Regions from separate parts of the Homo sapiens genome. Here region 1 is linked to region 2. Evidence: fine-mapped expression QTL. A gene starts in region 2. The other region holds a variant in brackets. All regions are shown on one strand. Distances are between the middles of the regions.

Region 1 (12,422 bases), 27 kb before region 2:
CTAATTTCCCTTCTGTGATTTCTGACTTTATTCTTTGCTCACTTTTCCATTGGATTTCTGGCCTTTTTCTTGTTGATCCCCAGGAGTTTCTTGAGCATTCCAGATATTAATCTTGTGTAGCTTTAGACATTGCAAATCTCTTCTTCTGAATGGAAGAAATCTGCTTGGAGGGGGTTTGAGCTCACTATCAGGAAATTAATATAATTCATTTGCTGAGATCCAGCCTCTCCTGCTAAATCTCTTGAGTCCCAATCACCCTCCCTAATCTAAGAACAATTAAGCTATTCCCCATTTTTCTAACCCATTTATGGAAAGTAGTGTTTGGGGCCAGTGTGGTGGCTCACACCTGTAATCCCAGCACTTTGGGAGGCTGAGGCAGGGAGATCTCCTGAGGTCAGGAATTCGAGACCAGCCTGGCCAACATGGTGAAACCCCATCTCTACTAAAAGTACAAAAATTAGCCAGGCATGGTGGCACACACCTGTAATCCCAGCTACTTTGGCAGGCTGAGGCAGGAGAATTGCTTGAACCCGGGAGATGGAGGTTGCAGTGAGTTGAGATTGGACCACCACACTCCAGCCTGGGTGACAGAATGAGACTCAGTCTAAAAAATAAAATAAAATAAAAGTAGTTAGTTTGGGTTTATATGTCTAAGCTGTCCTCCAAAATATCCATTTTGATTGCTGTATTACTCAGGATAGTGATGGTTTGTGGGAGGAGGGAGGGTTGTGATTTGAACAGTGCACACAGAAGGTTTTCTGGGGAGGCTGGAAAATTTTTTTATTTTTTTCTTCTTTGAGACAGGATCTCACTCCAGTTGCCCAAGCTGGAGTGCAATGGCACAATCTCGGCTCACCACGGCCTCAACCTCCCGAGCTCAGATGATTCTCCTACCTCAGCCTCCTGAGTAGCTGGGACTACAGGTGCACACCACCACGCTTGGCTAGTTTTTTATATTTTTAGTAGAGATGGGGTTTCGCCATGTTTCCCAGGCTGGTCTCAAACTCCTGGACTCAAGTGATCCACCTGCCTCGGCTTCCCAAAGTGCTGGGATTAGAGCCATGAGCCACCACGCCTGGCCTTATTTCTTAATCTGGGTGGTTTTACCTTATAATAATAAATTAAGCTATACATTTGATTTGTGTGGTTTTCTTTTCTATGCCATGTTTTACAATAAAAGATTAAAATATATGTCCCTCAGTTACCTTTCATTTTCCACTGCTCTTCAGTTTGCAAGACTAAAATTCATTTTTCTTTTTGAGACAGAGTCTTGCTGTGTTGCCCAGGCTGGAGTGCAGTGGTGCGATCTCGGCTCACTGCAACCTCTGACTCCCGGGTTCAAGTGATTCTCCTGCCTCAGCCTCCCAAGTACCTGGGATTACAGGCGCGCACCACCACACCCGCCTAATTTTTGTATTTTTAGTAGAGATGGGGTTTCACCATGTTGGTCAGGCTGGTCTTGAACACCTGACCTCGTGAACCACCTACCTCAGCCTCCCAAAGTGCTAGGATTACAGGCGTGAGCCACTGCGCCCGGTCCTAAAATTCATTTTTCAAAACAATCTAGTTTCTCCCCGAGTCAAAGCAAACCTGATTCCCAGACATAGACTGCTCTGAAAATGGGCTTTTTCAATTACTACAAATCGGATATTCCCCTTTATTGTCCACCAGTAAAACTGACCACCCTCTGGTGGCTGAATCCACAGCCATGGCAAGGGTCTGGGCAGTCAACCTGTCAGGCCAATGCCGGGCCTGAGAGTGGAGGAGGGTAGGACTCAGGGACCTCTGAACCTGCTTCGTGAGCCTAAGGGCTTAGCTTGGCCACGGTTCCCTATTAATAGGCTCTGGGTCATGTACAAAACAAGAGAAAGATGACAGAATCTGGGAAGGCTGCTACCACTAGCGACCTAAGGACTCAAAACTTCACACACAAATATGAAGAACCATATATAAAGAAGTGGCTATGGCTGGGAGTGGTGGCTCACACCTATAATCCCAGCACTTTGGGAGGCTGAGGTGGGTAAATCACTTGAGCCCAGGAGTTCAGGACCAGCCTGGGCAACATGGTGAAACTCCACCTCTGCTAAAAGTAGCAAATATTAGCCAGGCGTGGTGGCACACACCTGTAATCCCAGCTACTCGGGAGGCTGAGGTGGGAGGATCACCTGTGCCCAGGAGGCGGAGGTTGAAGTGAGCCGAGATGGTACCACGGCACTCCAGACTGGGTGACAGAGGAAGACCCTGTCTCAAAAAAGAATTTAAAAAAAAGTGGTCATATATAAAAAGCTGCTTTTTCCAGTTTAAAGTTTCCATTTGCAATACATTGGATGAGAATGGGTGAAGGGGCGCCAGCAAGCTGTGGTGGCATAAACTGCTTGACTCACAGTGACTAAAACCTCTGTCTATTTGAAGTGAGCCTTTGCCAGACCCAAAAGGCTCTATTTTCCAAATCACCTGATACCACCTTTGGTCAAGGCACTAGCCATGGCAGCTGCACTAAGCCACAGGCTCCCATAAGCTATTTTTATCTCAAATACTCACTAGGACCCACTGGGTAACCAGTATGCTCAGGGAAAGGTTTGGGGCCCTGAATCCTACCTTCCACCCCAGAGGGATAAAGACCATGAGGACGGTGAGGAAGCATTTTTATTAAATGGTTGATTGAGGCTCCTGTATGCCCTCAGAACAAGGCTTTTCAGTAAAAGCAGGTCAGAGAATTTGACTTCGGCCAGGAGGTCTTAGCAAGAAATCCTGCTCCCTCTTTCTGAATCAGAGTTCATGACCCCAACCAGCTGCACGGAGGAGGATGGCTGCCCTGCTCAGAGAGGCCAGGCCCTTTATGGTCACCACGTGGAGCCGGGAAGGAGAAGAGAAGAAATAGGGTCATGAATTCCCACCCAGCAATCGGACATTTCCCTCCCTGGGCTCAGCAGTCTTGCCCTCAGACCTGGACTTGCCCCCTTCCTCAGCAGCACTTTCAGAACAATCCCTTAGCCCACAGCGTGGCAATAAACAACCGTGCGGTAAACAGAGCTTGTCTTCTTTGAGTCCCCTTGAGCCCAACGTCTTCGTGCTGCCCACCAGGCCACCCCCACGCAGTGTCTCCTACTCCAGCCAGAGCTCGGGGCACCGCCCCATCCCGGGTCGCCTTTCACCGCCAGCCCAGCAGGGGCCGCCAGAGCGATGCAGATGAAGCCAGAACCGCGCCCGGGCCGCGGAAGGAAGACTCCCACGGGCCGCCCTCGGTTCTTGACGCTCAGTCCAAGTGCCCAGTGGGGACAGGCGCTCTCAGGCTCCGGTTTGGAGCTCTCCTTACCCTTCTCAGAGGTGAAGACTGAGCCAGACTCCTTCCGTTTTATTTTTATTTTGTATTTTTTGTAGAGACAAAGTCTCACTTTGTTGCCCAGGCTGGTCTCAAACTCCTGGGCTCAAGCAATCTTCCCGCGTCGGCCTCCCAAAGTGCTGGGATTACAGGCGTGAGCCACCGCACCTGGCCCCGTTTTATTATTTTAAAAAATGTTGGCCGGGCGCAGTGGCTCACGCCTGTAATCCCAGCACTTTGGGAGGCCGAGGCGGGCGGATCACGAGGTCAGAAGATCGAGACCATCCTGGCTAACATGGTGAAACCTCGTATCTACTAAAAAATACAAAGAAAATTAGCCGGGCGTGGTGGCGAGCACCTGTAGTTCCAGCTACTCGGGAGGCTGAGGCAGGAGAATGGCGTGAACCCAGAAGGCGGAGCTTGCAGTGAGCCCAGATCTAGCCACTGCACTCCAGCCTGGGCGACAGAGCAAGACTCTGTCTCAAAAAAAAAAAAAATGTTTATTACTTCCCTTTCAAAGCTCTAGATATAGATAGATACAGATTTTTAATGCCAAAACAAAGTTACTGAAAGTGTGGTATATCTCAAATGTGTATACTTAGCAAGTCAAAGCTGTGACCCCCACACCCAAATAAATAAATAAATGAGTAAAAGAAAGCCAGGCATGGTGGCTCACGCCTATAATCTCAGCACTTGGGGAGGCTGAGGCAGGAGGATCACTTGAGTTCGGGGGTTCGAGACCAACCTGGGCAACAAAATGAGACACCATCTCCACAAAAAATACAAAAATTAGCTGGGCATGGTGGCGCATGCCTGTAGTCTCAGCTACTTGGGAGGCTGAGGTGGGAGGATCACTTCAGCCCAGTAGGTCCAGGCTGCAGTGAGTGGTGATGACCCACTGCACTCCAGCCTGGGTGACAAAGCCAGGCCCTATCTCAAAAAAAGAAAAAATGCCCAAAGCTGTATTTTGTATTTTTTGTAGAGAGAAAGTCTCACTTTGTTGCCTAGGCTGGTCTCGAACTCCTGGGCTTAAGCGATCTTCCTGCGTCCGCCTCCCAAATTGCTGGGATTACAGGCGTGAGCCACCGCGCCTGGCCCCGTTTTATTATTTTATTATTTTTTTTATTTATTATTATTTTTAAAAATGTTGGCCGGGTGTGGTGGCACACACACACACACACACACACACACACACACGCAGAGAGAGAGAGAGAGTTGACGAAAAGAGTCAAACTGTGTAAAATATTTGAAGAGATTTATTCTGAGCCAAATATGGGTGACCATAGCTTGTGATACAGCCCTCAGGAGACCCTGAGAACATGTGCCCAAGGTGGTAGGGGCACAGCTTGGTTTTATACATTTTAGGGAGGCATGAGACATCAGTCAACACATTTAAGATGTACATTGGTTAGATCCAGAAAGGGGGGACAACTCAAAATGGGGAATGGGGTACAGAGCCTTCAAGATTATAGGTAGATTAAAAAATTTTCTAGGCCGGGTGCAGTGGCTCATGCCTGTAATCCCAGCACTTCGGTAGGCTGAGGTGGGCAGATCATCTGAGGTCAGGAGTTTGAGACCAGCCTGGCCAACATGGCAAAACCCTGTCTCTACTAAAAAATACAAAAATTAGCCGGGCGTAGTGGCAGGCACCTGTAATCCTAGCTACTCAGGAGGCTGAGGCAGGAGAATCATTTGAAGCTGGGAGGCGGAGGTTGCAGTGAGCCAAGATTGCACCACTGCATTCCAGCCTGCACTCAAGACTCCATCTCAAACAAACAAACAAAATTCTCATTGGCAATGGTTAAAAGAGTTATCACTAGAATGAAATATCTAGGTTATGATAAGAGGTTATGGAGACCAAAGTTTTATCATGCAAATGAAGCCTCCAGATAGCAGGCTTCAGGAGAGAATAGATTGTAAAGGTTATTTATCAGACTTAAGGTCTATGTTGTTGTTAATGCTGGTCAGCTTTTCCTGAATTCCAAAAGGCAGGAGGGCATTATGAGGCAGGTCCAACCCCCACTTCCCCTCATGGCCTGAAAACAGTTGTTCAGGTTAACTTTGGAGTGGCCTGGCCAAGAGGAGGGAGTCTCTTCAGATGGTGGGGGTAGCCTTAGATTTTTATTTTTGGTTTACAACAAACACACACACAGAGTCCCATACACACATATGTGTATATATACATATATAATGCAACATAACAGAGCAATTCACAAGCCATATGAAGATAATGAGTTTACAGCACACCATAGGGCTGGTAATGGTAGCAAGTTTAGGATGCATGTCTTCACCTGATCCCGCACAGTGAGGCTGAATGTAGCTCTGACAGGTGTGTGACCCCACACATTTAAGGTCTGTATCTGAGGCCCTACATAATCTGAGGCCTTAGCCAAATGCCCCCCCGCAGTCCACTGCCTACTCTCCACCCCCATCCTCATGGTCCAGGCCACCAAGAAATATTATACTCAATGAAAAGTGGAGAAGAAGCCAGGGAGTCCAAAGTTACTGGGCCTCTTCCTCCAGTTCCCAACTTGCCACCACAGTAGAGAAAGACTCTCAGCTGGCTTGGGGAACACAGTTGGACAGCGAGGAGGCAGCTTCTCTGTTCCTGGGCTGCTCTCTGTATCAGCCTCCACCCCAAAAGTCTCCACCTTGGTCCATTATCCCCTCTCCTTAGGCCCCAGAGCCTCTTC[C/T]TGTGTTTGTGTTGTTTTTGTCAGAGCAGGAAGTCTTCCTGGAAATCCACCAGAAATCCAACATCCTCCTCCTTCCCCAGGGGACCCTGGCCTTAGGCATACACCCCACCCCACCTCAGCTCTGGCTGAGGCACAAGGCCAGAATCACAGGAATCCATCTTCCCAGGAACCCTGCCTTGCCCTCAGGCTCTGCGTCAGCCCCATCCTACCTCCCCACACTGCAACACTAAGAGCAGCAACTCCCTGCAGTAGAAAACAGCAATAAGGGAGAAAAAGCTCGTCATTTCTAAAGGAAATGTGAAAAACACAGAAGTGTACACAGAAGAAAACCACCATAACCTGGATGTCCACTATGCCGCTCTTTTTGGTATCCCTTTTCCACCAGAAGCTGACAGCTGAACCATGACTCCCCAACCACATCTGCACACATGCACAGGCTCTCCAGCTTCTCCTCCTTGTTTGGCTGTCAGAATCCTCACCTCATCTAGTTGGTGTGGGAGAGGATAAGGCTAAAGTGAGAATGACCGACTGTGTTCACTCTCCTGTGTTATAGACTAACAGCTGAGGGTATCCTTGGAGTCCATGAAATACCTGTCCTGCTAGATGCTCCTGGAAGAGGGAGTTCTGAGATCATCTATGTTGGGAACACCATCTACACGGCCCCATCCTGTATCCATCAGGTTGAAGTCCAAAAAGTGCTAAAAACTAAGTTTTAAAAAATAACAGGCTGGGTGCTATGGCTCATGCCTGTAATCCCAGTACTTTGGGAGGCCGATGTGGATGGATCACTTGAGGTCAGAAGTTTGAGACCAGCCTGGCCAACATAGTGAAATGCCATGTCTACTAAAAATACAAAAATTAGCCCAGTGTGGTGGTGTGTGTCTATAATCCCAGTCACTAGGGGGGCTGAAACAGGAGAATCGCTTGAACCCAGGAGGTGAAGGTTGCAGTGAGCCGAGATCACACCACTGCACTCCAGCCTGGGCAACAGAGCAAGACTCCGTCTCAAAAAACAAAACAAGACTTAGGGGTAAAACCTGACCTAAAATGATGTTGTGGCTTTTCAGATTTTTTACTTAGCCTACTTAGTATGAAGATGCATATGTTTTGCTGCAGAAGTATGTGCTTGATTACAGGGCCTGCCAGCTCTTCTGGGTGCAATGGAATAAATAGTGGAATAAATAGCATATTCACCATTTACCTTATTAAAACCTGAAATATTCTGAAATCCAAATATATCTGGTTCCAAGGGTTTTGGGTACTGGATTGTGAGCTGACTAAGTTCATTGTATGGATGTTTAACCTGTTCAAAGCATATTAAGCCTTGTTGTAGACAAGAAACTAACCTCACATAACATTCTCCAAATTTATTTGGCTACAAACCCCTTTGTTCCACTTGCTACCTATAAATATATCACAAAATTGCCATGTGGACCCTTGGGAAACATGGAATGTTTCGAAGACTTTAACTCTCTAATAGTGAGTTTTCAGATGTAGAAAAAGGGTAGATCTTCCAGAGGGCTCTTAGATCCCAGGCCCTAAGACTGGGCAAGGTGAGAAGCTGGTATAGGGATGACTGAGGCAAGCCTTTGATGGTTTACATGGGCCCGGGACAGGGCCATGACCTGCTGGAAAACCTAATTAAGACAGACACATATGTCAAACCAGAGAATCAAATCAGAAAGCCAAACAAAAATCAGGAGGAAAACAGTTAAAAGTTGAGCTAAAGATCAGAAACTAGAAGATTTTCAGGACTTAAAGCGCTCAGGGCTCTACGTTCCCAACAACAATGAATCTCTGAGACTAAGCCAACTTTCGCCTCACCCTGTGAGCTTTTATAAGCTTCCTGGAAAGATCTGCACCCATTCTGTAGTTTGCAGGTAGAAAGACAAGTGAGAGCTCCTGGTTAGCCTGTTAAATCCCTGAAGAGGCAGCTGGGACCCACCTAATGTCCTCTCTTGATGCAGGAGAAGGTATTATATTCAGGTACAATATTGAGGGACTTGTGAGAAGAGCAGATTCAGGCAACAAGCATTTGAATCCATTCTTTGGGTCTCCAGTTTCTCTGCTGCTGATGTTACAATTCTTTGAAATCATGCATTGACCAAACGTGTTGGACTTGGGTCCCATGTCTCAGCATGATCAGAGCAGGGTGCCCTGGTCTGGCAGAATATGCTGGTGAGGAGTTGGACATCTTGGCTGGTACCCCTTAACAGTCCCGGACCTGAGAGGTGGCAGGAAACCCCTCAGAATTAGTTCTGGGTAACTCTAGGGAAATTCATTAGCAGTTTCCTCTGGGCTCTTAAGGCTGGTGCTTGGAAGCAGCAGGAACGTCAGGAAAGGATGTGCTGTGTCCATCCCAGGCTTTACTGGAGCTGACTCCTGTCTCTTGCTGCTATAAGTACAGTATTTACAAGGCCTTTAAAAAATGTCTCTTCCTGCCCGGGCATGGCAGCTCACACCTGTAATCCCAGCACTCTTTTTGGGAGGCCAAGGTGGGTAGATCACTTGAGCCTAGGAGTTTGAGACCAGCCTGGGCAACATAGTGAGACCCTGTTGTCTCTATTAAAAATATAAAAATTAGCCAGGCATGGTGGCACACACCTGTCAGCTACTCAAGAGGCTGACATGGGATGATTGCTCCAGCCCAGGAGTTCAAGGCTGCAGTGAGCTATGATTGCAGCACTGCACTCCAGCCTGGGCAACAAGCAGGCAAGACCCCATCTCAAAAAAAAAAAGAAAGAAAAAAGAAAAAACTCCCTTCCAAAATTCTCACGCTCACCCCTTGACTACCTCTCTGTGCCTGCCCTCTACAACTTATTCTCTAGGATTTCTCAGTTGTGACGTTGATATTTTGAGCATCCTACATTGTAGGATGTTAGTTACCTATGAGATGCCAGTAGCATCTTCCCAGTTGTGACAACCAAAAATGTTTCCAGACACTTTCAAATGTCTCCTGAGGGCAAAATCACCACCCTTATTGACAACAACCACTGCTCTATCTGAATGGGGAGGTCGCATGGCAGACAGTGCATGTCTGGGTGAGATCCCCACTCTCCCTGGGCTAGCTGTGCCCCTAGACATTTATATTATTCCATTTGTGACCCTGTAAGATTTTCTACTAAATTTAACCTCTTTGAGCCTCAGTTTCCTCACTTACTTACAAAACATTAAATAGAAAAAAATGATAGTAGGCCAAGCACGGTGGCTCACGCCTGTAATCCTAGCACTTTGGGAGGCCGAGGCAGGTGGATTACCTGAGGTCGGGAGTTCAAGACTAGCCTGGCCAACATGGCGAAACCCTGTCTCTACTAAATAAACAAAACATTAGCCGGGTGCAGTGGCACGCACCTATAATCCCAGCTGCTCTGGAGGCTGAGGCAGGAGAATCGCTTGAACCCGGGAGGCAGAGGTTGTTGTGAGCCGAGATAACGCCACTGCACGCCAGCCTGGGCTACAGAGTCAGACTTCGTCTAAACAACAACAACAACAACAAAAACAAAAAACAAAAAGAAAAAAGAAAAGAAAAAAATGATGGTAAAAATCTCAGGCGCTTTTTGGAAGTGTTAAATGAGCTAATGCATAAAAAGATTACAGTGCTTGGCAAAACAGCATTCCAATACAGGTAGATTATTAACCCCTGTCCCCCAGGGCTTCACACCTGTTCAAGGTGACCACTAACTGACCTTACATTAGCTTATAAAATACTCTATGATCTGACCTTACCTCTGTGGCTTCATTCTTCCACACACCCTCTCCAAACTCAATACTCCAGACATGTTGACTGCTTGCAGTTCCAAGGAAGCAGTCAAGTTTTATACGGCTCCTGCAGTCTTTGCGTATGTTGTGCTGTTCCCTGTGCCTGGAGCTCTCTTCCCCTCCGACTAACTCCTGGTCTCAGCTTGGATATCACTGGGTCCAGAAAGGTCTTTTCTCCCCAGGTCTGGGCAGAGGAGCCTCCTTTGCAATTCCCTGGTGTCTGCACTTCTCATCATCACGCTTCTGACACTGCGTGTTCATTGCCTTGCTGTCTGTCTGAATTGCTCTCCCAACTGGGATCGCTGTGAGGCAAGGGATGCTGTTTTGTAGACGCTGAGTCTCCAGAATCCAGCACAGCTCCTGACATCATCCTATAGAGATTCCGTAATTCTTGTCCAGTTAAGGACGAACTGTACGAAGTGCTTAGCACTAATATGGAAAAGGACTCTCTTTTTATCTTCCTTCCCAGGTAACCATGTTTTATTCTTTCCATTTGAGTAGGTAGTACTTGCAAATGGAACACAATTTAAAAGTGATCAAAGGATATGTGGAAAAGAGTAGTAGCAATTTTCCTTCCTGGAGGTCACTACATTTCTGGTTCGCCCGCAACCTTCCAGAGACAGTCCAACTGTGCATTTTATTTTTATTTTTATTTATTTATTTGAGATGGAGTCTCACTCTGTCACCCAGGCCGGAGTGCAGTGGTACGATCTCAGCTCCCTGCAAACTCTGCCTCTTAAGTTCAAGTGATTCTCGTGCCTCAGCCTCCTGAGTAGCTGGGATTACAGGTGCATGCCACCACGCCCAGCTAATTTTTGTGTTTTTAGTAGAGACGGGGTTTTGCCATGTTGGCCAGGCTGGTCTCTAACTCCTGGCCTCAAGGGATCCATCGCCTAGGCCTCCCAGAATCCTGGGATTACAGGCGTGAGCCACCATGCCTAGCCCCAACTATGCATTTTAAATGGAGCTTTCGTGATCTAGCGACTGGACTCTCCTAAGCACTACCCCACTGTCAGGTCTCCAGTCTGGGCAATCAGCAAAAGTCCTCCCTATTGCCCAAATCCCACCTTCGCTAGTCAAAAATAATAATAATTCACTGGGGCAGGAAATAAACTTTCAACTCTCCCTAAAGGGCAGCAGGGTAGGAAGTGGCAGGCAACAGAGATGAAGGCAAGGGGGAAGTCTTGTAGATCCCAGCACGCCCACCCTCAAGTGTCCTAGACTGTCTACACATACACACACACAGAGAGAGAGAGAGTGTGTGTGTAAAAGCAGAAGCTGTAGGAAGAAGATGCTCTAGGGGGACACCCCACCCCAACTTTCTTCTTTTTGAGAGGGAGTCTCACTCTGTCACCCAGGCTGGAGTGGTGCAATGGCACAATCTCGGCTCATTGCAACCTCCACCTCCTGGGTCAAGTGATTCTCCTGCCTCAGCCTCCTGAGTAGCTGGGATTACAGGCGCCCGCCACCACGCCCAGCAAGTGTTTATATTTTTAGTAGAGACAGGGTTTCACCATGTTGGCCAGGCAAAACTCCCCTGCAAAGCTCCCCTTCCCCCGTCACTACCTTGAGAAATCAAAGGGGAGCGTCAGGCCCAGCTTCGGGCTTCCTGCTCCCTCCCCAATGAGGGGAAGAGAACTTCAATGCTGAGTCATTTCCCATCGGGTTGGGCTTTACCTGGGAGTTTGAGTCACCATGCAGGTGTCGGGAGGGAGAGGTGCTGCCCAGCATGACACATCTGCCTGTTCAGGAAGGAGGTTAGCCACTTGGGGTAAGGCACTGAGGGTTCCAGGGACCACTCCATGTCTGACCCTGGGGCTAAGAACCCCTACTGCTCTGTGAGGGGTTTTACAGTCCCAGGCCAAAACCAAGGACTTAGGGGTGAAAATTAAGAGCCAGGGCTCCTTTGCTTGTCTAACACCTCTTCCCTTCGCTCTGCTTTCTCCCCTCCAACCCGCAGGCACCCAGCCATCCTGGGTGCATCTCCCAGCATCTCAGCTGGCGAAAACACAACCTTCCTGACAGGGCTTAGGTAAAGGCCCCACAGCTCCAGACACAATAAACAACGTCATTTCCCTTCTCCCCTCTGAGTTGGGAAGAAAATCCTAGACCTGAGGAGCACCAATGAGAGTCTGATCCCAAGGCAGCTTCAGGGGCTGCCCAAACCTTTTAGCCACACCAGGGGCTTCCTGGAGCTGAACAGCCCAACCCCAGGAGGCTGGACTCTAGATGGGGGATCCCCACCCGACTTTCTTTCTTTTTTTTGAGACAGAGTCTCGCTCTGTCACCCAGGCTGGAGTGGTGCAATGGCACAATCTCTGCTAACTGCAACCTCCACCTCCTGGTTCAAGCGATTCTCTTGCCTCAGCCTCCCAGGTAGCTGGGACTACAGGTGCCTGCCACCACGCCAAGCAAATTTTTGTATTTTTAGTAGAGACGGGGTTTCATCATGTTGGCCAGGCTGATCTCAAACTCCTGAGCTCAAGTGATCTACCCACCTTGGCTGCCCAAAGTGCTGGGATTACAGGTGTGGGCGAAAGATTACCTAGGTGCTGAGGCAAGAGACTGAAGGCACAAACTGTTTCAGTATAATAAAGAAAATAGTTAGAATAAGAATAGTCATAATACAAATTAGATATAGAGATGAT
Region 2 (12,422 bases):
TTCATGGAATATCAGAGCCCTGCCCTGAAGTCGTTAGTGTCTCTGCTCCCCAAACCGCTGCTCCCACATTGGCTAAGCTCCCTCAAGAGACCTCAGCTGTTACACTTCCTAATTGGGAAATTATTCATTTCTCAACCATGGGCCTCACAAATGCCCACCGTCGGGGGAGCTGGCTCTCCCTTCACCCATGCACAGGAGATGCCCTGCCCTTTTTAACTCCTGCAGGCTTCAGTCCAGAAAAAGACAAGTTGCTGGTCAGTAACATGTTGAGTCAGGACCACCCCTCCATCCTGGCCAGAGGGGTCTGGGCAGCCAGCACCCAGGCCTATGCCTGAGGGTAAAGCTATTGTCGTTCGCCCTGGTGGGTGGCACAGGCAAATCCATCTGTGCAGAGCCTATCTTCCCAGTCTCTTCTTACAGCTGATGGAGATGACTCTACTGCAAAAATGACAACCAGCAAGAAAGCGGGTGGTGCCCGTTTCCTCCCTGGGGACCCTCAGAGGGCCAGGCCATTCTCTTCCTTGGTGTGACTGCGGATCCAGGGTAAGAAGTGTGAGACTCTCGTGTAGACGCCTGGCTTGTCCTTCAGGGCACATCCACGGCCCCAGCTCACAATTCCAGTCAAAGTCATGCGGCCTTGGAGGGAACAGACGAGGGGTCCCCCTGAGTCTCCCTGTGACGCCAAAGATACAAAAGATGAGCCCTAGAGAAGTGAGGAGGGGATTTCTGATCCCATCACCCAACCATACCAGAGAGAGGGAAGAGTTTCCCAGTCAAAGTCCTTAGCGACTTCCCATTTTCTTTCTTTTTTTCGGGGGGAGGACAGAATCTCGCTCTGTCGCCCAGGCTGGCGTGCAATGACGTGATCTCAGCTCACTGCAAACTTGCCTCCTGTGCTCAAGCGATTCCCATGTCTCAGCCTCCTGATTAGCTGGGATTACAGGCAGGCACCACCACACCTGGCTAATTTTTTTTTGCATTTTTAGTAGACACAGGGTTTCACCATGTTGGCCAGGCCGGTCTCAAACTCCTGGCCTCAAGTGATCCATCCACCTCGGCCTCCCAAAGTGCTGGGATTACAGGCATGAGCCACTGTGCCTGACGCAGCCCCATTTTCTACCACATCAAGTTTAAAATCCCCTGCTTGGCTTTAAAAGCCCTGTCATCTGCCACTATTCCATCCACACTCCCAGACCCTAGTTCTCCTCCCCACCCGGAATATGCCAGCCTCCTTCTCAGTTTTGTATCTTTCAACTGAAACACCTTCCTTTCTTCCCTCTGCCTCTTCAAATGCCTATCAAGTCACATTTCCTTTAAAGCCTCCCCTCCCTGACCCTCAGGTTGGCACTCACCTCCCTCTCCTGAACACCTGATCATTTATAGTTCACAACACACCCTGGGCACTGAGTTACATTGTCTTTTACTGTTTCCTCTTTCTAGGATCTCGTGCCCCCAGTCTGAAGTGACTAGCGCAGAGCTGGGATTTTTTTGGTAATGTCTGGCAAACACATAAGGACTGGTTTAAACCCTCAAAGACCTGAGCTCCTGATTCTGGCTACTTAGGGCTTTGGCTAGAGAGAGACACCCTTAAGCTGGCTGGAACAAGCCCAGGAGCTCTGGGGAGATATGGAAGAGGTGGAGAGAGATGCTTGGAACACTCACCTGGCAGGAATCTGTTTTCCACTGTGGGTCAGCAGCACACAGCATTTTGGTGGTGACTTCAGAGCCGTAGTAGTGGGGCTGCTGACACTCCCGGTGGGAAATCAGCTTCACAACAGTCATTTTCAGCTGCTCCGGATAGAGATAGTCGGCTAGGTGGAGAAAACAGGGAGGCGTTTGCATCAAGATTTATCTGTCCACTGGGAGTCTGCCAGAGAGGGGAACCATAAAGTATCTCTACCAGGGAAGGCCCTTATTCTCTTCCATGCAAATCTGAGCCTTTACTCCACCTATAGCCCCTACCATCTATTTACCTTTGCAGCCCATCGCTCCCTAAACAACACTCTTCATCCATCCCTGGACCCATCTGCCACCGCCTCAGTGCTCCCACCTCTAACTCTGCAGTCTTCCCTTGATCACGCTGGGCTCATTTTCAGGTCAAAACACTCCTCAGGACCTTCTAAGTCAGTCGCAATTGTCACTTACTAGAATTCTCTTTTCCAAAGCCAGTGATCTCACAGCTTGTGCCAAACTGGGGATCGTTATACATCGAGGGCAGGCAGATGGTCTGTATAGTCCGGGATGGCTGCGCACACCTGCCCTCCTTGGAACGGATCTTCAGCAAGGCTGGGGGAGGACAGAGGGTCAGAGGAGAAAGATCACTACTGGTTAGGCGGTCCCCATCTGTCCCCTCCAAGTGCCGAGGAAGTAGCTATGCCTATCCCTAGGTCAGTCATCCAGGGAGGTCTGCTGGTCGCTTATCACCTGGAAACCTCCCCTGCCCCATGCCCCAAGGGCTTTGTTCCAGGTGTTGAAAAAGGCTTGGATGGCCAGAGCCACTGCATACAGCTGTACAGGTCGTTTCTGCAAAAACTCCCAGCTGAGGTAGTTAGGCTGGAATCCATCCCAAGGCTCCATTCTCCAAGTTCTATATCCTAGCACAGACAGAGGCTGCATCCCACAAAGGAAGGTGTGTCTTTTTCTAATTCATATAAACAGGGCCTTCCCAGCCCAAGCCATATACCCACAGGGCTGTTTCCACTCGCAAGAGGCTACTTGTTGGGGAAATTCAGGGTCTCTCCAGAGGAGCACCAGGCCCCTCAGACTTCATGGAACTCTTCCCTGCCACTCCCTTTGTCATGTATATCGAGGCTTCAAGGTCCCTCGCCCCACCCCTGCCCCACCGGGCAGCTTCAACCTCAGCTCCAGTCTCTCCCTGGGTCCCACTCTCCCCAAGCCATTATGGCCACAGTAGTCGCGGGGTTCCCCCTCACCAATGTCGTTGTGGTGAGCAAGCGTGTCAGCGCTGTAGTCCTTGTGTAGGATGAGGTTTTCCACCTCAAACTTCATCTCCCCTTGCGTGTTGGAGTTAAGCCTTGAGCGACCCAGGTAGACGATGTAGTCCTCCTTCTTTGGGTAATCACTGTGGGAGAAGATACCCATCAAACAGCTTAGTCCCATGAAATCTGCCACTTCTTCCTTCCCTCCCTAGAGGCCTCAAAGCACGACTTGTCCCCAAGGCCATGGGCTGCATGGACAGGGGCAGATGAGGGAGAAATGAGGCGGAACACTTTGCTGGGAAGGAGAAAGGGATGTGCTTGGGGTGGGGCAGAAGAGTCGAAGAGGAGAAACCCAGGGCCGTACATGAAGCAGTGTGTGGCGCTGATCACCCAGCAAGGGCTGATGAGGCTGCCTCCACACACGTAGGTGACAGAGCCCCCCCGGTGCCTCCTGTAGATGGCCGCAAACCAGGGCTGGTTCTCGATGGTGGTGAATTCTCCCCCAATAATCTTAAAGCGGGGCCTCAGAGTCTTTTGGCCACACTGAAATTTTAATTCTTCTGGAGGAGAGGAGGGCTTTTTTCCTGGAGGACAAACAGAGGGATGTCTTAGGGAGGCAGGTAGGAGAAAGCATCCCTCTCGGGCACCCCCCACCTCCTCAGTCCTCCTGTGATGGAATAAGGGGACATGTAAGTTTGTCCCCTTCCACCCCACTGTCATCAGCAGGTCAGTGATGCTCACCATCTGCGCAGTCATGCACCATGCACTCTTGGACAAGCAGCTTTAGGCCCACCTGCACATAGCACCAGGGTCGCCTCCGGTTGTCTGGGTTCCTGGCAACACAGAAAGATAGGGGATGTCATTCCAACCCAGAGGGCCTTCCCTGCCTCCTCCCCTCAGGGAAGACTCAACCAGAGGCCGCACTTCTCTTGTGCTATGGCCAGCCCTCTGGGAGAAGGGGATGGTAACAAGGTTTCTGGGAAGCTGTAGGGAGGGCTTTTGGTCCTTGTTGCCCCCACCTCACCTGCAGTAATTATGTTTCCCCAGGCCCAGCTGAAGAGCATCAGATCTGTGGGCATGGTACGTTTGCTGAAGGACAGTGGCAGAGTTCCAGGGCAGGCAGGGCCGGCCCATGGTGTCAGTGCTGGCCTTTCCTCGGTAAAAGTGACCATTCCCCTCATAGCAGGTTTTTGACTTATCTACAAGGGGACAGGAGGATGAGAGAATATGAGAAAGAGAAGAACATTCCAACTAACTTTTATTTTTTTTTTTTGAGATGGAGTCTTGCTCTGTCGCCCAGTTGGAGTGCAGTGGTGTGATCTCAGCTCACTGAGATCTCTGCCTCCCAGGTTCAAGCAATTCTCCTGCCTCAGCCTCCCAAGTAGCTGGGACTACAGGCATCCACTACCATGCCAGGCTGATTTTTGCATTTTTAGTAGAGGCAGGGTTACACCATGTTGTCCAGGCTGGTCTTGAACTCCTGACCTCAAATGATCCACTCACCTTGACCTCTCAAAATGCTGGGATTACAAGCGTGAGCCACCATGCCCGGCTGCCAACGGACATTTTAAAGATGTCGTTTCAGACCTGCCAGAAGACTGGACAGGGTCTCCTTCCAACCCCACCTCACATTTGTGTGGCCACTGTTTCGTGAGCGTGTGTGTGTGTTTATGCTTGTCACATAGGGATGAAGATGTCACCCACCCTACCTCCAGCTCCTAACTCCTGCCTGCTCTTGCCTCCCACCCATCCCTCCCTGTCCCCAAATTTCTCTCCCAGTTGCAGTGGAGATCCCCATACCTATTTCACAGTGCTGCCCTCCGAATTTCTTTGGGCAGTTGCACCAGTGAATGTTGGAGAAGTACTTGTTGGACACACATGTTCCTCCATTTAGACAGTCACAGTTCGCTGGAGAGAACAAAGGTGGGGTAAGCGAGGGGGAGTGGAAGTGGTAAGGGGTGGCGCAGCCCTGCAGCAGAGGGCAGGGAGGGGATGTCCCCTGAAGCCTTCCCAACTTGTCTGTGCAGCCAACTGTTGTAGGGGTGGATACTCACATGGAACTTGATGAAGTTCATTGCTGCCCTGGAAGAGATTCGGGAGGAGGCTTCATCAAAGGTCCCATGCTCCAGGGACTCCAGGGTGAGGGTAAACTGGCCCCAATCCCAAAACCCACTCTTCCCTCTCCCTCTCGCCTCACCCTGTTCGTATCTAGTTCTCAAATGGAAGACCATGGGTTTCCAGCCAGGAGAAATGGATTGACCCAAGCAAGCTTCATCTACCAGATGCCCGCAGGCTGGGGCAGTCCCGGCGGCCTCTTCCTCCCTTGCCAGCCAGTGCCAACCCCCGTGGTTCTCAAGCCTCCGCTGCCACCCTGTCCCATTTCCTGGGGAGAGTCTGGCCCTGCTGTGGATGGAATCCGGAGGACCCCAGCTCCCTGAGCAGCCCCTCCTCTCCCCTGGTGCTGATCAGAGGTCCTTGGGCAGCATCAGTCAAAGCAAGAGCGCACTCACTTTGGAGTCGCTCACGACCAGGACGCAGAGAAGCAGGCGCGCCAGCAGGGCTCTCATGGTGGCGAGGTCGGGGCGCTAGACGGCGGCTCTGCAAAGGAAGGAGAAGTCAGGGCAAGAGGCGGAGGAACGGGAAGGCAGGCCAGGCGGGCGACTGCAGCGCAGGGGAGATGCCCGCGGTGACCAGGCTCCCCAGCTGTCTCTCTCCTCTCTGGGCTCCGGACTCCGGGCAGCCTGGATCGGCACCCGCGGGGGACGCCCGGGACGGGGCGCCTTGACTCCGTGCAGCCGCCGGGGAGCCCAGGGAGCCCGGGCAGCCCAGGGCGGGGGAGGCAGACGCTCGGGAGCTGGGGCCGCCGCGCATCCGGCCCGGGGATCTCAGGACCGCGGCACTCACCGGTGGCTGCGGCAGGAGGGCGCGAGCCGGCGCTGCGGGGACAGGTGGACCCTGGCCCGGGCTCCGGGGCTGCGGTCTCCGCACTGTGCTGCGACCCGCGGCGCCTGCTCTATATCAGGGCCCGCCCCGGCGCCGCCCCTCCCTCTCCCGCCCGGCTCCCTCCCCTGTCTTGCAGCGCTCAGCGACCCGGACCCCGCGTGCTTCCGCAACGCTCACAAAGATTTGGGGGAAGCGCGATCTCCAGCGGAGGGGACCCAACAGCGTCTGGACTGAGGAATCGAGAGGCTTGTAAATTCTCCGTGCTTCCTCCCATGCACCTGGCCGGGGGCCTGCCCCAGTGCAAGGAGTCCCCGAATTGCAGAGAGGAGAGAAGGCGCACAGGAGACTCTCTACCTCGCCCAGCTCTGAAGCCTCCTGGGGTCCTCTAATCAGTTCTTCTGCAACTTCTCCCCGCTGGGCCCCAACTTGCCTAAGACTGCCTCAGACCCCCTTGCCCGCAGCTGATGGAGCTGTGAAGTCTTCATCAACGCGACAAATGTACGAGACATACTCTCCCAGAAGCACAGACAGAAAAACCCCTGCCTGTAGGGGCTCCCTCTGTGCGTCTGTTCAGTGGCAGTCCCCAGATATCACCAACACAACCAGTGGATGGAACAAAGCCGGGCTTATTGCTTTCGGCAGTAAGGGGGTTTGTTTGATGGTGCTATCAGAGGGGGAAAGGCAAGGCCAGATTACTGAAAATTTGCAGCTTGGTTTAAAGTCCGTTTTTGACAGGGCTTGATAAGGATTGGGTTAGGTGTCGTGATATGATGTTACAGGATTGTGGGAACAAAGTCCTAGGGCATAAACTGTTGGTGCTTCCTATTGAAGTGTTAACGGGTCTTTTGGGAAGTTTCCATAATGAGCAATTCATTTATTTGTGCAGGCAAGAATAAAAGTAAAGACAATGGAAACATGTAGACAGTTCTAACTGTGGAGGTTCTGGAGGGTGTGGAAGTTCTGTTCTCACCTCTGAGTAGAGGAATTGGGAGACTGGAGGACAAAATAAGAGGAAGATTTATTTTTCACTGTTTGTCCTTTTACACTCTTAACATTTTAAAAAGCACATCTCTGTATAGCCCATTCCAAAAAGATAATTATGCATTTTTTAATGCATGTGTATTTAGTGTTTTACTTCATCATAGAGCCTTGTTTATTCTATTCAGATAGAAACAATTGTTTATCAAATAAAATTGTCCTCCAGAAAAACAGACCATGTGTAAATGACTGCATCCACCCTTCCTGCCTGAGGATAAGCAGACATTTGTGTATACACACACACACACACACGCATCTCTGGGCACACTTGGAGGAACATAGCAGGGATTCTGTGATTCTGTCACCCCCATCTCTTTCCCCTAGTGTCAGGAACCAGGGCTTGGGGTCATTTTGAACCCAGTAGGACTCGCTCTCTTAGTGGGAAGGAGGAGGCTGAGTCCCAGCAATCCACTAGCGGCTTTGGGCCCTTTCCCAGCCTAGGCCTGCAGCATTTTCCTGCCTTGCAAATCTGGACCTTGGGTCTGGGTCCACCTGAGAGTGACAGAAGGAAGGCAGGGAGAGTGCCAGGAAGGTAGGAAGGAGGAAGGCTCCTTTGCTCTGCCCCAGCCGAGGGCTCAGGGTGCCAGCTGCCTGCTGGGGAAAGTACAAGTTAGCCTTTCAGCTTTTGGGAGGCAGGTGACCCACTGTCTTCTGGAGAGACTTCTGTGCTTGCTGAGCTGCCAGCCTTCCAGGGGACAGACTGAGTCAGCGATGCTATAGGCTTCAGAGCCAACCTTGCTACTTCCTCTAGAAGACTGTGGTCAGTTTTGTTTGGATTTGAGAACCCATTAATTGTAAATAAACGTGACCAGAACATAAACAGAGATGCTGCAGCCTGAGGACTTACCCCGAAACTCCCAGGTTAGTTATCAGGAAATTCCCAGGGACCGTCATGATTCATGTTGCTCCCCTAGCAGCTCTCATGACTCCAGATTACTTGGCTGGAGGCTGTCATGCTGATTGCTGAGAGCAGATGACTTCATTTCCTCCTGGACAAAGAGGTTTGGAGACCGTTATGAAGCGTGACACCCTTTCTCCCCTTCCGCCCCCTCCTCCCCCGTGCCACCTCTTCACCTAGCACTTCAACTCTTCACAGAACTTCCTTATCCATGCGCTAATCTTTAGCACTCTCTGAAATCTTTGTGCACAGTTCTTTTTTTTTTTTAAAGACAAGGTTTTGCTGGGCTTCTGGGTTCAAGGGGTCCTCCCACCTCATCCTTCCAAAGTGCTGGGATTACAGGCATGAGCCACCACGCCCAGCCATATTTTTTTTTTTTTTTTTTTGAGACGGAGTCTCGGTCTGTCACCCAGGCTGGAGTGCAGTGGCACAATCTCGGCTCACTGCAAGCTCCGCCTCCCGGGTTCACGCCATTCTCCTGCCTCAGCCTACCGACTAGCTGGGACTACAGGCGCCTGCCACCACACCCGGCTAATTTTTTGTATTTTTAGTAGAGATGGGGTTTCACCGTGTTAGCCAGGATGGTCTCGATCTCCTGACCTTGTGATCCGCCCACCTCGGCCTCCCAAAGTGCTGGGATTACAGGCGTGAGCCACCGTGCCCGGCCCCAGCCATATTTTTTATATTGTATTTCTGTCTTGTGCTTCAAGGCACATTAATGTAAACCATTTCTCTTTAAACTCATAACTGCCTTATGATATAGACTGGTATTGTTGTTCCCATTTTGCAGATATGGAAAATGAAGTGGAGAGAAGATACACAGTTGATGAGCAGCAAAGCCAGCACTAAAACCCAGCGTCTTCTGATCCTTGTTCCTATGCGCTATACCTCACTGTCTCCATAAAAGACAGAACGCTGTGAAGGGAGGGGCCAGTGAGCTAAGATGATCCAGCTCAGGGGAGCCCTCCTCCTGACTTTGGAGACCTCCTTCCAGAAAGACTGCTCGGACTATGGACTCTGAGCTCTTAAGTTGCACCCGCTGTAATACAAATTAGTTGTTTGCCTGAATTCCAAGAACTGTCTCTGTGGTCTAGGCTGTCTGAAATTTCTGTTGAGGGTAAGAGAATAAGGAACTGAATGTGTATGATTTCATTCTTTTCCTGACTCCTAGGGTGAAGCCACCAACCCCTGCCTCTGTGTCTCAAGGGTACAGAGCTCCTGAGTCAGATGTGGCAACACAGACTGCTGGAGAAGCCCTTTCCAGGAGATTCTCATAAAAGGGAAGGCAGATGCCAGATGCGCAGGGAGGGGCAGGGTATCCAAACCTGGCCCTGAGACTAAGTCCAGGAAACTCAGCCCCTAAGGACTATTTTCTGACCCAAAAGGAAGTTCCCATGGAGTCATAGGATGCAATTCTGTGTTGTATATGAAGAATGCTCAGCATGGCACTATAGAAAGACCACAGTGCCTAGCCTTCAGTCTGCTACATCAAAGTTGAATGATCTTAGGCAAGTTGCTTAACTCTTTTTTTTTTTTTTTTTTTTTTTGACGTGGAGTCTCGCTCTTGTCACCCAGGCTGGAGTGCAATGGTACAATCTTGGCTCTCTGCACCCTCCACCTTCTGGGTTCAAGCAATTCTCCTGCCTCAGCCTCCCAAGTAGCTGGGATTACAGGTGTCTGCCACCATGCCGGTCTAATTTTATATTTTTAGTAGAGATGGGGTTTCACCATGTTGTCCAGGCTGGTCTTGAACCCCTGACCTCAGGTGATCCACCTGTCCAGCCTGTGCCTCACTCTGCAGATTGGCTGAGATCATGCTTGCATGTAAAAGTATTCATTCATTCCATATTTATCATGGACCTACTGTGTGCTGGGCGCAGTTCTGGATGCTAGAGATAGGAAGAGGAACTGTGTAAACTGTAATTCCTACATCGAGTGCCTGCCTCCCCTTTTTGACTGTGGCTGGATTGACTCAGAAGACCAAGTCAGGCTGGAGTCCATTCCAGGATTCCAGGCCAATGGGGATGCTGTATCCTTGGCCAGCAGTTCCCAGCAATCAGGCAGCTGGACCCACAGCTGCATGTGCTGTTCACTCCCACATTGCCTATGCTTACTCCCTCTCCCTCTTGTCTGTGTCCCTGTGTGGCCTGAAGCGCCTCTTTCCCTCCTACACATGGGGCAGACGGACTCTTCAACAGTTCTGGGAAGGAGGTACGGAATGCTGGTCACATAGCTTCCTTGAGTCTAAGGACCCCTTCTTCCTGAGTGTCTAGTGTGAAGGGTGAAGCCAGCTGGCAACGGCAGGCACTGAAAGCCGCTTCTGGGCATGTAACATGATAGGGGGATTGCTGGAGCTGCAGGCCCCCAGCAGGCTGTGGAAGGGGTGGAGGGAGGCAGCATTCTTGCTTCCTTACTCATGGAAAGCAAAGAGCCCAGGGGCTGAACCCTGAGGTTACACTGTCGTCAGTAGCACCATGAAAGGGGAACTAAAGCTGGTCCCTCCAGCATCAGGCTATGACCCCCCTAACCTTCCTCACTCTTTTTCTGCCTTACCAGCTCTGGCCTGCTTCCTAGGCCTACCCAGGCCACTCAGCTCAGACTTCTGCATGTATGTCATGAGTCTTGGCCAAATTTTTCTTTGTCCCTCCCTGACCCAAACCCAGTTATTACCTAAGTCAGGAACTTACTGCTTTAAAGTAGTTTGCCAGGTGTGGTGGCTCACGCCTGTAATCCCAGCACTTTGGGATGCTGAGGCGGCTGGATCACTTGAGGTCAGGAGTTCGAGACTGGCCTGGCCAACATGGTGAAACCCCGTCTCTACTAAAAATACAAACATTAGCCAGTGTGGTGTCACACGCCTGTAATCCCAGCTCCTCAGGAGGCTGAGGCAGAAGACTCGCTTGAACCCGGGAGGCAGAGGGTGCAGTGAGCCGAGATCGGGCCACTGCACTCCAGCCTGGGTGACAAAGCGAGACTCCATTAAAAAAAAAAAAAAAGTAGTGTTGGTCATGGCTTACCAGACCTTCTGGATTCTGAGCCCCTCACCAGGAACCAAAGTTAGGCCCTGGTCCTAAAACTTCTGCTCAGAGTTCTGGTTACCATGTTGGGTGGCAATAGATGCTTAACTAGAAGCAAAGGGGCATGCCCAGGAACAAAGGACTGGGATGACTAACCAGCAAATGGTGGGCTTGCTGAAGACTGCCAAAAAATCAATAATATTTAGGGATATATGTTCAGCCAGAAGCTGAAATACTGAAAAAATCCTATTCAGAAGAAAACTAACATAATATTCATAACCCATATGATGTCTAATTCCACATGCTCATGGCTCTCCCAAGCTGGATTCTATGTGCTGGATTCTATATGCATCTCTGTCTTCAAAGCAAGCACTTCCCCTTCCATTACACAGAGAGGAAAATAGAGGCTAATGAAGGGAAGTGAATCATCTGAGTTCATTCACTAAAAATGATGAGATTCAGGATTCACAGATTTTGAGGAACTTCATGACACATTTCCACCCTCTCCTTTCTTATTCTGAATCCTCAGCTCCTCCCTTTTCCCGATCACCATCCATCCCCATCCTCAATCTATCTTGCCCACCCTCCTGCAGAAGGTGCTTCTTTTCTCTGGTTTGCTGAGCCTCTGAGGAGGGTTTGGAGGCAGCCACGTCCTGCAGAGGGGACAGTCTCCTTTGAGAAGGCTGCTAGAGGACTAAATGTATGAATATCTGTGGGAAGAGGGAGCAGGGATCCCTGGAGGCAGGTGTGTGTGCAGAGTGAATGGGAGGAACAGTATGTGGGTAATCTACATGGGCGTTCTTTGTTTACTCTGGAGACAGTGATGGTGGGGAATGTGGCAGGGACTAAAGAAAAGGAAGAGTGCCAGATGCAGTGGCTCACACCTGTAATCCCAACATTTTGGGAGGCCGAGGCAGGAGGATGGCTTGAGCCCAGGAGTATCAGACCAGTTTGGGCAACATAGTGAGACCTCGTCTCTATAATATATTTTTTAAAAATTAGCCAGAAGTGGTGGCACACACCTGTGGTCCCAACTACTCAGGAGGCTGAGGTGGGAGGATTGCTTGAGCTTGGGAGGTTGAGGTGGCGATGAACCTTGATCACACCACTGCACTCCAGCCTGGGCAATGAGACTCTGTCTCAAAAAATAAAAATAAAAAAGAAGTCTGTTGTCTCCAAGGGGACAATACAATCTTACAATTTATCCCTTGTTAAAGATAGATAATAATAATAATAACCAACTTTTATTTGCATTACATTCATTTTCTTTTTACATCTTAACACCTTTAAGGAAGGTACTATTAATGTCACCATTTTATGGATGAGAAAATGAAGGTTCACTGGGCTTAAGCAATTTCCACAAGGTTAAACTCCAGGGAAATGGAAGCACCAAGACTCACATGCAGACCTGGTTGACTCCAGGTTTGGAGAACTATCTCTGAGGCAGTATCAAATTCAATCAGGCTAGTGGAGGTGCTTGTCCTTCTAACTGGGAATCTTCCTACTTCTAACCCATGGTGACATCCCAGGATAGCTCCAGCTGTCCATCCAAGTCATGTCTGCCTTGATTCCTGCCTGCCCACCTTG

Evidence for each region. PIP is the estimated chance that this variant, and not a neighbour inherited with it, causes the effect.
Region 1: its variant is fine-mapped to the expression of PLAU in left ventricle (GTEx, PIP 0.97).

The regions. Positions count from the first base shown.
Region 1 is chr10:73,931,528-73,943,949 of GRCh38, reverse strand. No RefSeq gene overlaps it. Among named protein-coding and RNA genes, the nearest start is that of C10orf55, 15 kb to the right of the region's middle. RefSeq lists enhancers at 3,086-3,245, 11,516-11,565, 10,800-11,999 and silencers at 11,706-11,755, 11,876-11,935. The variant C/T (reference allele first, on the strand shown) is at 6,016.
Region 2 is chr10:73,904,640-73,917,061 of GRCh38, reverse strand. It overlaps PLAU (plasminogen activator, urokinase), which reads right to left and starts at 5,930. Exons shown (of 11, transcript NM_002658.6): 1 at 5,844-5,930; 2 at 5,450-5,537; 3 at 4,994-5,021; 4 at 4,740-4,847; 5 at 3,964-4,138; 6 at 3,681-3,772; 7 at 3,304-3,523; 8 at 2,934-3,082; 9 at 2,146-2,286; 10 at 1,663-1,811; 11 at 1-673. The coding sequence starts at 5,506. The coding sequence ends at 497. It overlaps C10orf55 (chromosome 10 putative open reading frame 55), which reads left to right. Exons shown (of 5, transcript NR_160938.1): 2 at 421-543; 3 at 3,987-4,019; 4 at 4,778-4,862; 5 at 4,967-7,093. RefSeq lists enhancers at 2,668-3,221, 2,832-4,031, 7,650-7,699, 6,949-7,899, 7,255-8,454 and a silencer at 5,384-5,983.